3 linked regions of the Homo sapiens genome follow. The protein of the gene in region 1 purifies or fractionates together with the protein of each later gene. This does not show direct contact. Each region holds a gene or a part of one and is shown on either strand. Other genes may lie near its edges. The genes, in order: FGF11, UBE2O and AHCYL1.

Region 1 (3,078 bases):
TCCCAAAGTGTTGGGATTATAGGCATGAGCCACTGTGCTTGGCCCAGAGCCTAGTTCTTAGCCCTCAGCCCTCTTCCTTGTCCTCCCTTTGCTCCCAGGTCCTACATGGACTCAGAAGTTGTCCTCCCCCTCCCCCAAAAAGGATTTGTGCTTTCCATGAGCTCCTTTCTGCCCAGTGATGTGTCTTTTTATCTCTCTGTCTTTGTGCGCCTTTCTGGGTCTTTGTCTCCTTAGCCGCATTTCACAGCTGAGTGTCGCTTTAAGGAGTGTGTCTTTGAGAATTACTACGTCCTGTACGCCTCTGCTCTCTACCGCCAGCGTCGTTCTGGCCGGGCCTGGTACCTCGGCCTGGACAAGGAGGGCCAGGTCATGAAGGGAAACCGAGTTAAGAAGACCAAGGCAGCTGCCCACTTTCTGCCCAAGCTCCTGGAGGGTGGGTATAGACTCAAGAAAATGTGGGCCACAGGAGAGGGTATTGACCTTGATATGGACATTTAGGGGCAGACAGCTCAGGCTACAAGTGATAAGAGGACCCTTTGTGACAGATCAAGCCAGGAAGGCTTTGCCCTTTGGGGGTTTGGGTGCGGTCCTCCTGTGGGGTTGGGGTTCTTGGAGGGTGAATGTACGGGAAGGGAGCCCTTTTGGAGCACTGGTTCTGCCTGGGTCCCTCTGTGCCTAACTCTCCTTCCCTGCTCCTCTCTTTCTCCCCTTCACAGTGGCCATGTACCAGGAGCCTTCTCTCCACAGTGTCCCCGAGGCCTCCCCTTCCAGTCCCCCTGCCCCCTGAAATGTAGTCCCTGGACTGGAGGTTCCCTGCACTCCCAGTGAGCCAGCCACCACCACAACCTGTCTCCCAGTCCTGCTCTCACCCCTGCTGCCACACACATGCCCTGAGCAGCCAGGTCCCACTAGGTGCTCTACCCTGAGGGAGCCTAGGGGCTGACTGTGACTTCCGAGGCTGCTGAGACCCTTAGATCTTTGGGCCTAGGAGGGAGTCAGAGAGGGGGATGTCTGAAGATGGTCCTGGCTGATCACTTCTTTCTTTCCACACTCACACAACGCCATGCCTTTTCCTGAGATGGCGCTGGGAGTTCCCACATGGACAGCCAGGGCATAAACACTTCCCACCCCGGCTCAGCCAGTTCCTGGAGTCCTGTGCCCCTTTTCATTGCCACTGAGCCATTTCTAGATTCACTGGAGCTCAGGATTCATGTGTCCTTCTTTCCCTACTCTACCTTCTACCTTGGTCTGGACACATTCTGGAACACTGGACACCCTCGCCAGGGCCACTTCTGCACTAGGGCTCTGTGCTGGAACCCAGGCATGCTGCCAGCCTTTTCTCTGGATCTGTCAGGCCTCTGTCATTGACTCAGATGGACCCCTGGTTTCCAAGTAGAAAGAGGCTAGATTTGGGCCTTGTCTAGCTGTTGGCTTTGGCCTGAACCGGAACCAGTCTCAGATGACCACGGGTTTAACCTTCTTATCCCAGAGACACCCAATTCTAGAGCTTTATGGAGCCGTACTTCCCCCTGAATCCTAGCTCTAGGACATAGATCATGACTCTCAGCCCTTTTACCCAGGATGGAGCTGGGGCCTGTATAGCCATATTATTGTTCTAAGTAAGTTCTAGCCCCACCCTCCCGCCTTCTTGAGTGATACCTATTACGGATGAGTTCTGGAAAAGACCCAGCTATGATTCATAAAAACACTTCTGGATGAATCAAGAACCATTTCTTGTTTTTCCTAGATAATTCTCTAAAAATATGATTCTTCCATATAGAATGCTAAGCTTATTTTTACATGCAGTTTCTAGCTCCTTCAACCCAGCTGAGGTCGTGCCAGGGAGACAGAGTCTGGAGAAGGGCAGAGGAATTTTGGAAGGATCCCTGGCTCATAGTAGGGAAGCTGGGATGGGGGAGGGGTCAAAATTATGGCATGACTGAACCTGCATCTGTGTTGGGTGGACATGAATACTTAGCTACCTCAGCAGGAATTCCTTCCAGGTCCCCTTTAAAGCTGAGGTCCTTAGAGTAATATGTCCTTAATAAAAAGGACAAATGGATACAGCCTTGACCCTCCCAGTGAGGAGACCCCAATTCAGCAATAAGTCTCACCCTTCTCCCCTACAGGTCAGGCCAAGAAGGGTGAAGGCCTCTTGCACTCCAGACCTCATACGCCCCAACAGCTTCTAATTGGATAGAACTTGCTTTACCTTACAGCTCACAACCTCAGCTGGGTTTTAGGTACCCAAAAAGGGCCTGTCTAGATTTTTTCAGAAAAACGTGGAGTGCTAGGGGCAGCCTGGAAAAGATGGGGAACCTGCTAGTGAACTAGGAGGGAGACTTCCATAGCCTCAGACTTGGATAGGGTAGGCTGAGGGGGCCCTAAGGGAGGGACTAAGGCTCCAAGGCAGGTCACTTTTCCTTAGGCTGTTCTACTTCTGGCTTGTTGCAAGAGGAGTAGATGCCCCCTCACCCACACAAACCCCACTCAGTCTCCACCCAACTCCTGGCACTGCTCCCAGGGGATCGGGTCTCCACTCCAGCTTTCTCAATTAAAGACGATTTATACAACTGAAGTGCTGTCTGTCATCTGTCGGTGGCGGGCTTGGCAGTTGCTCGAGGCAGGATCAAGTCCCGGGGGCGGGGCGGGTGGGCTGGCGGCTGTCCTCCAGCAACAGGTGCACATTCCCGGGCTCCTCGTCACTTCCCCTGTGCTGGCGGTCCCAGCGGCTCTCTGAGCGAAGTCACTGAGCGAGCCGCCAGGCTATGACCCCAGGGGCTCTGCTGATGCTGCTGGGGGCGCTGGGGGCGCCGCTCGCCCCAGGTAAGTGTAGGCCCCGAAGGGGCAGTGACGGGGCCAGCGGTCGTGGCCAGGCACCAGGGCTGCACTTATTCTCTCCTCCCCCAGGCGTCCGCGGCTCGGAGGCGGAGGGTCGACTCCGGGAGAAACTTTTCTCTGGCTATGATAGCTCCGTGCGGCCAGCGCGGGAGGTGGGAGACCGTGTCAGGGTCAGCGTTGGTCTCATCCTGGCGCAACTCATCAGCCTGGTGAGGGCGCGCGGGGGGTGGAGGTCAG
Region 2 (3,652 bases), about 69 Mb from region 1:
ACCTGTCTCATGACTCAGCATTCCCAGCCGAAGGATGACAGCAGCAGAGCGGACAGGAGGTCAAGTTGGAGCTCCTAATGGAGCTGACCACTTCTGAGGCAACACAGAAATGCCAGTTACGTGGAGTGTCTGCACACTTGTTTTGCTCTAGGAGGTGGAGTTGGGGAATAAAACTGAACTGCAGTTCAGTGTTGGAATGAATCAGACTACAGAGGTTGCTTCATTCAACATTGAGGGGCAGTCAAAGGTTCTCTAGAAATGCAATGTGTTTTTGACAGTTATTTTGAGAATGACTGAGGGGTCAGGGAATGAAAAGAGTGGAATCTGCAGAAGCACACCGCCAGTGCGAATGCAGTGTTCCTCCCGTCCTGCTCCCTACCCATCATCTCCCTCCCTCCTGCCTGCCCACTGGCACAACTTCCACCTATCCCAACATCCTGTGCCTCTCTCCTTCCTCACTTGTAGTACCTCCTATTACACTAAGACTTTCAACTGTTTAAAGAAGGGATGATTAATGCCAACCACAAGGCTTGTGATTCATGTTGGATCAGGGCACTCGGTCACGTATAGTAATGATCTCTGAATCCTGAACTTAAGTATTCTCAGGTGAGAACAAAGTACATTTAGTTCAATTTGTATTCAGATTCCTCCACTTAGAAGTGTGACACTGGGCAATTTACTTAACCTCTCTGTTCCTCAGCTTCCTTCTCTGGAATATGGGGCTAATAATAGCACCACAGGGTTGTTGTGAGCGTGAAGTAAAACATCTAAAGCACTAAGAGTGCCTGGCACACAGTAACAGTATCCTGGATCATGACTGCTCTTATTACCTTAAAATATAAAGCAATACTCTATCATCTTTGTAATTTATAATCTCATTACCAGTCTTGAGAATTTCAAGAGACCTTTCAGACTCTGGAAACATACATACATACATACAGATTCATTCCATCCCCCTCCTGGAGGACGGCCGGGGTTACTTTAAATGTGCATTACTGAATTTCTCACAAAGTAACAGAGGTAGGAAGTTCATGAGTATTTCTAGAAGAGGTTTAATAAAGTCAAACCTATAATCCATCTGGTCACTAGCAACACGAGCCATTAGGAATTCCTATGCCCCTGAAACAACCACCTTCCCCACAACCCGCCTCGTGCACCTTTTGCTTCCCAAGGTGCCTCTTTGGTGCAGCATCACCCTCTTTCTCATGGAAGTGATCTTCTGAAGGCACAGGGCTGGCTCTCTCTGACAGACATCAGAATGCTGTCTGCTAATAACCAAGTGGCCATCCTAGGCTTGACCCAGCTACACTTCTGGTTATTCCATCCGAGCAGGATCATATCGGGGTTAGGAAGATAGACCTCTTATTTCATTGCAGAGGGAGAAAATGAGGCAGTGACTTGGTCAAGGTCATTCAGAGTAGGTGACAGCCAGGAAGAGCACCCAAGGGTTTTGGCTTCCAATCACAGTACAAAACACACACCCTTCATCTGGGGAAAGTACCCTTGAGTCAGGCAGCAGCCAGACAGAAGCACCATCAGGGCACTGAGGCCCGAGGGCTAGAAGGGGAAAAATCAAGGGACAAAGAATAAAATCACAGAACAGCTGTTAAGAGTCTACAAGTGCTGTGATCCTATCTGAATAAAACGCAATTTAGATTCACTTAGTCCTGCATCTTGGTTAACCTTATATAACTTCTTCACATTACATCACTAAGAACAATTGCTTTTAATGGGCCCAGCACCCAGACAAGTGAGACAAACTTCACGTGCCATGATGCTACACCTAAATAGCTTTCCCCATGGAAATGCTGGCCAGCGTAGGAGCCAAAAATAAACTGCAAAGCCAATTCCCGAGGGACCTGTCATCAGGGATGTTTCACACACACAGCTTCATAAAAGCAGGGTGATCACAGACAGCCCTAATTTAGAGGCACTATATCTCAAACCTGGTGAAACCCTGAATGTCATGGCAACTTAAAACAAAAGACAATGCAAAAGAGATGAAAAAGCACAAGAAAGCTAAAGCATAAACGCTTTGCCTCCGAAACGAAGGCTGAACTTGAACTGACAGACAGCAGTCCTGCTCCCTTACCTCGCAGGGGGCTGTTCTGCCCAACCATGACAGGTGGAGACCAGAAGGACCCACCACGTCTAGCCAGTGCTCATGAAGGTTTAAGTGGCTGCTGGCATTTGGCTTTGTTACAAAATTTTATTCAAAGGATGACTGGTGATGGGGAAGGGGCAAGCCTCCTCTAAGGAGATCCATGGCCAGATGGACAGTTTCAAGTGGCTACCTCGCTGAACAGGTCAGAAGACTGGAGAAAGGAAGAAGCATATAAGAGACACTGGCCACTAGCTCCTTTTGAGTCCTTAAGAGGCTTAATTTTGGTGGCTGGAAGCCTCAGGAACACGACAAATTCCATAGCTTCATGGAAGAACTTACTTTGTTTCTGTTGCTATTTTCATGAAGGCAGCAGGGAAAGGACATGACTTGCTGCCCAGTCTCTTCATCTCTCTTTGTAAATTTGTTCACTAAAAACTTGAGACTAAGATTAAGCCTTTACTCATTGCCCTCCAATTTACAGAGAAAACTACAAAAATACGCCACACCCTATGAAACACTCCACATTAAATAGATACTACTAAAAAATTTCAATGGGGCAAGGCACTGTGGCTTATGCCTGTAATTCCAGCACTTGGGGAGGCCAAGGCCGGTGAATCACTTGAGGCCAGAAGTTCAAGACCAGCCTGGCCAAAATGGCAAACTGCCGTCTCTACTAAAAATACAAAAATTAGCTGGGTGTGATGGCGCATGCCCATAATCCCAGCTATGCGGGAGGCTGAGGCACAAGAATCACTTGAACCCGGGAAGTTGAGGTTGTAATGAGCTGAGATCGTGCCACTGCACTCCAGCCTGGGTGACAGAGAGAGACTCTGTTTAAAAAAGAAACTCACACACAAAAATTTTCAATAGGTAGCAGCTTATTAAAAAAAATAAGTTTCGGGCGGGTGCGGTGGCTCCTGCCTGTAATCCCAGCACTTTGGGAGGCCGAGGCGGGCGGATCACCTGAGGTCAGGAGTTCAAGAACAGCCTGGCCACCACGGAGAAACCCCGTCTCCACTAAAAATACAAAAAATTAGCCGGGCGTGATGGCGTATGCCTGTAATCCCAGCTACTCGGGAGGCTGAGGTAGGAGAATCGCTTGAACCCGGGAGGCAGAGGTTGCGGTGAGCCGAGCTGGCGCCATTGCACTCCAGCCTGGGCAACAAGAGCAAAACTCCGTCTCAAAAACATAAATAAATAAAAAATAAGTTTCTCAAAACCATCACTACTGTAGTCCCAGCTACCTGGGAGGCTGAGGCAGGAGGATTGTGTGAGACCAGGAATTCAAGGACACCTGAGTAACAGTGAGACCCCATCCCAAAAATAATAAACAAACCAGTAACTCAAAAAAAAAAAAAAATCTGCCACTACATTATTTTGTCAATAATTGGGTTCTCAAATCTCATAACTAGATTAGTCAATCTTGGTCTAATGGTCTTTCCTTTACGGCATACTATCACCTTGATGGAATTCATAAGGAGCAGGAGGTGAGAAGAAAAATCATCCTAAGCCACAGTTCTGCAAGGTCCCAGGACCCACCCTACCACC
Region 3 (3,652 bases), on another chromosome or scaffold:
TGAACTATTGGTAAAAGGTAGTATTTGGAAATCTGGGGTAGAGATTGGAAAAGTACTTTTGAGAACCACAGGTACAAGACTCTCCAAGCATGCTCCTGCTTCTTACCATAAAAGCCCCAACGCCTCCGCTGATGTGCCTGTGTACTTAACCTGTGGGGCTTAATGGGCTTAACATGTTCTTCTCTACCAGCCCAAGCCAGTTCACTTGTTTTAAAGTGGACAGCCTGTACTCAGTTGTGTGATGGAAATGGGGCATATTAAACAGGAGGGGTCTGGGACTGCTCTCTGTTCCATGCTGTTCATCTTGGACCTGCCTCAGGCTTACTTCTTCACAATTTGAGGAACTGCTCAGCAAGAGCACACCCTATTGTTGACATGTTTTTCTTTTCTCTCCGGAACCTGCGAGTGTACGATGGCATTAGTGGAATCCCTCTGAGCCTGTGTGCCAAGGAAAATGCTAATGTGCTGATCCACAATGATGTGTGGCTCAGTGTGAACTACGTAGTAAATTTGTGAGTGACAGAGTAAAGGGGCAAGAGGCTGGAGGAGATGAGTATAACCATCTTTCATTCACTTAGACTTCCTGAATGAAGCCGTTCATACTGAGTTTTGAGCAATGAGAGGATTTTGGAAGTTCTGTTTTTAATAAATGGCTCCAACTCTTCTAGTACTTACTAATTGTATTAAGGTGAACCTTTGGGACATAGGTTTCCATATGCTTAATGGGAAATACTTTGTCCCTTTTCCCCCAAGACTGGCTTGACCTCACGTCAAGACCTCACGTCAAAGCTTTTGGGCCATGACCTGTTTCCTTTGTGGTTCCAGAAATCTGGGGGCGGGGGGAAGAAAAGAGAGAGACCTACCATAAAAGTTAATAGGACAGGCTGGGCCCAGTGGCTCACGCCTGTAATCCCAGCACTTTGGGAGGCCGAGGCAGGAGGATCACAAGGTCAGGAGATCGAGACCATCATGGCCAACATGGTGAAACCCCATCTCTACTAAAAACACAAAAAAAATTAGCTGGGTGTGGCAGCACACACCTGTAGTCCCAGCTACCCGGGAGGCTGAGGCAGGAGAATCGCTTGAACCCAGGAGGTGGAGGTTGCAGTGAGCCAAGATCGCACCACTGTACTCCAGCCTGGCAACAGAGCAAGACTCCGTCTCAAAAAAAAAAAAAAAAAAAAAAGTTAAAGGACAGAGATTCTGATCTGCCCTCTTTGACCAGACCCACCCCTTCTCCTTTCTCAAAGACTTTAAGGAGAAGACTTCAGGTTCTCATGACTGTTAGCTTTATTTTGGGGATGTAGAAAATAGAGATTCACTTTGAATTTTCAAAATGCACATCCCCATCTTTGTTTCTAATTTTAGAAGAGAGGTCAGTAAGTAGACAGATTTGTGTAGAAGATAGAGAATTGGAATATGCTTCTCTTTTGCCTATTTGAGGGAATGCTCTTGAGAATCACTGGATTAGAGACTGTAGAACAATGGTTCTTACTCTTTGAGTCAGAGGTCCTTTTAAGAGTTTAATGAAAATCCTGGTTCTTTCCTCAGGAAAATTCAGGAGCACAAAAATATGCGTATTCTGTTAGAGGATTTATGGGACTTCTGAAACTCATGGATCCTGGGTTTTAAAGTCCTGATGTGGAAGGCCAGGCCTCCAAGCCACAGCATCTCTTTTCATTACAAGTCCACAAACTGCTAAGAGATTTAAGTTTCCAGCCTGCAGTTTGTCCTTATGGCTTGGAACAAAGCTGAGGTTGTTGGCATTGTCAGCTCCCTCTTTGGGATGCTCCTCAGCTTCCCAAAAGACTCATTATAAGTGCCTTGAGAGTTCAGCTCAGGAACTTAACACACATTCGAACCGGCATTTCGGCCACTTTGGGGGAATTTTTGGTATTATCTCAACTCTACTGCTCTTCATATGAAATGCAGATGCCCCTGAAGCTCCAGAGCTGATTCCGTAGGAGTGTTTGAAATAGTAGCTCACATAGTAGATTATCAAAACTAAACAAAATAATTTGCTTCTGTATGTCTCTCAAAAATAGGTTGGATTTCAATGTAGTACTTCTCAAACTATTATATTTTAAGGACTGACCTGATATTTGAATTTTACTCATCATTTGACTTTTCTAGATGGAATATGTTGAGGGCAAAGACCGTATCTCACACATATTTATATAGTACCTGGCACATAATACTGTCAATAAATGCTTATTGAATAAAATAATGTGAGATAATCATTCCTTGGAGAAAGTAAGTTGGACTTATGTGGTGGCTTTGACTCACTTTCCCTTTCAGTTGGCTGGGGTGATTTTTCTAACTTAGAGCCCTCTCACATAGGTATAAGGAAGTACCAAGAACTGCAGGTGAGAAATTGATGAGAATTTCCAACTTAATAGATCCCTTTATAAAGCCAGAAATAGGAGGTCAGGGAGAAGACATCTGAATATATGCCTCCAGCTTCTTAGCCCAGTGGCAGTGGGCATAGGGATATCCTTAGACAATAATGGGGAAGGTAACTTGAATTTCTCACCATTGAAACAACTTTTAAACCCTTAGCATTAGGGAGACTCTGTCCAAAGTTGAAACTGGTATCCTGGTTTATACATGCTCTTGATTTAAAGAACAGGGAGGCTTTCACATAGGGTATTTGAGGTTTGGGGATTAGCGATGAGTTGAATAGTTTGATTTTGGAAAGTACATTGGAACTCTGAAAGTAATAAACAACAGCTCCGTCCGGCAGTGATGAGCAAACTTCTGGTTCTTACTCTGCAACCCTGGCTGCCCCTTCTGAGTCAAAGGCTGAGTTTGATGCTCAAAAGCTATACATGCCCTTCTCTCTTTGAAACACACCTTCTTTAGAATTACAGTCTTCTGGGAACTGGGCCAATGCTTATCCTAGCCAGAAGCTCAGGCTCTAGTTGGCACTACATTTTGTGTGTTCTGTTTCACTTCAAGTGTATAACTTAGGCAAGATTCAGGGGAAAAGGAGACCTTCAGAATTTTGCTATTTTGTGTTGTTTGTTTGTTTGTTTGAGATGGATTTTTGCTCTTGTCGCCCAGGCTGGAGTGTGATGGCACGATCTCGGCTCACTGCAATCTCCACCTCCCGGGTTCAAACAGTTCTCCTGCCTCAGCCTCCCAAGTAGCTGGGATTACAGGCATGTGCCACCACACCTGGCTAAATTTTTTTTGGTGTTTTTTTTGTTTTTGTTTTTGTTTTTAGTAGAGATGGGATTTCATCATGTTGGTTAGGGTGGTCTCGAACTCCTGACCTCAGGTGATCCACCCGCCATGGCCTCCCAAAGTGTTGGGATTACAGGCATGAGCCACTGCACCCGGCAAATTTTGCTATTTTGGAAGTTGAAATAGGTGCTTCCTAGAGATAGCAGATGTATCCAGTTGCTTTGGTAACTAATTCAGTTTCTTATGGGTGGCCAGGTGGTATCCCACTTATTATTCAATACTTGAGGGTTCAGTGCCCAGCTTCTGAGCACCAGCTTTCTTAGCAAGCAAGACATGAAGATTCCCAGTGTTCATTTATGAGAAGTAGCCCAGCTGGCTTGTCATGCTGGACTAGATGAATTGTGAATGTTAATTATATTGATAATACAGTGGCCTTGGTAACAGACTTGTAGCTGCTGTAGAATCT

What was found.
Region 2: the proteins of FGF11 (region 1) and UBE2O purify together in Homo sapiens (affinity purification with mass spectrometry; 3 studies listed by BioGRID and IntAct, with this or other methods). This does not show direct contact.
Region 3: the proteins of FGF11 (region 1) and AHCYL1 purify together in Homo sapiens (affinity purification with mass spectrometry; 3 studies listed by BioGRID and IntAct, with this or other methods). This does not show direct contact.

What each region holds. Positions count from the first base shown.
Region 1 is NC_000017.11:7,442,360-7,445,437, forward strand, and holds the end of FGF11 (fibroblast growth factor 11), read left to right. Parts: intron 1-234; coding exon 235-433; intron 434-716; coding exon 717-787; 3' UTR 788-2,578; downstream 2,579-3,078. Other genes in the region: CHRNB1 (acetylcholine receptor subunit beta precursor), read left to right, coding at 2,769-2,826, 2,911-3,050.
Region 2 is NC_000017.11:76,446,634-76,450,285, forward strand, and holds part of UBE2O ((E3-independent) E2 ubiquitin-conjugating enzyme), read right to left. Parts: intron 1-3,652. UniProt on the Homo sapiens protein: E2/E3 hybrid ubiquitin-protein ligase that displays both E2 and E3 ligase activities and mediates monoubiquitination of target proteins. Negatively regulates TRAF6-mediated NF-kappa-B activation independently of its E2 activity.
Region 3 is NC_000001.11:109,991,245-109,994,896, forward strand, and holds part of AHCYL1 (S-adenosylhomocysteine hydrolase-like protein 1), read left to right. Parts: intron 1-3,652. UniProt on the Homo sapiens protein: Multifaceted cellular regulator which coordinates several essential cellular functions including regulation of epithelial HCO3(-) and fluid secretion, mRNA processing and DNA replication.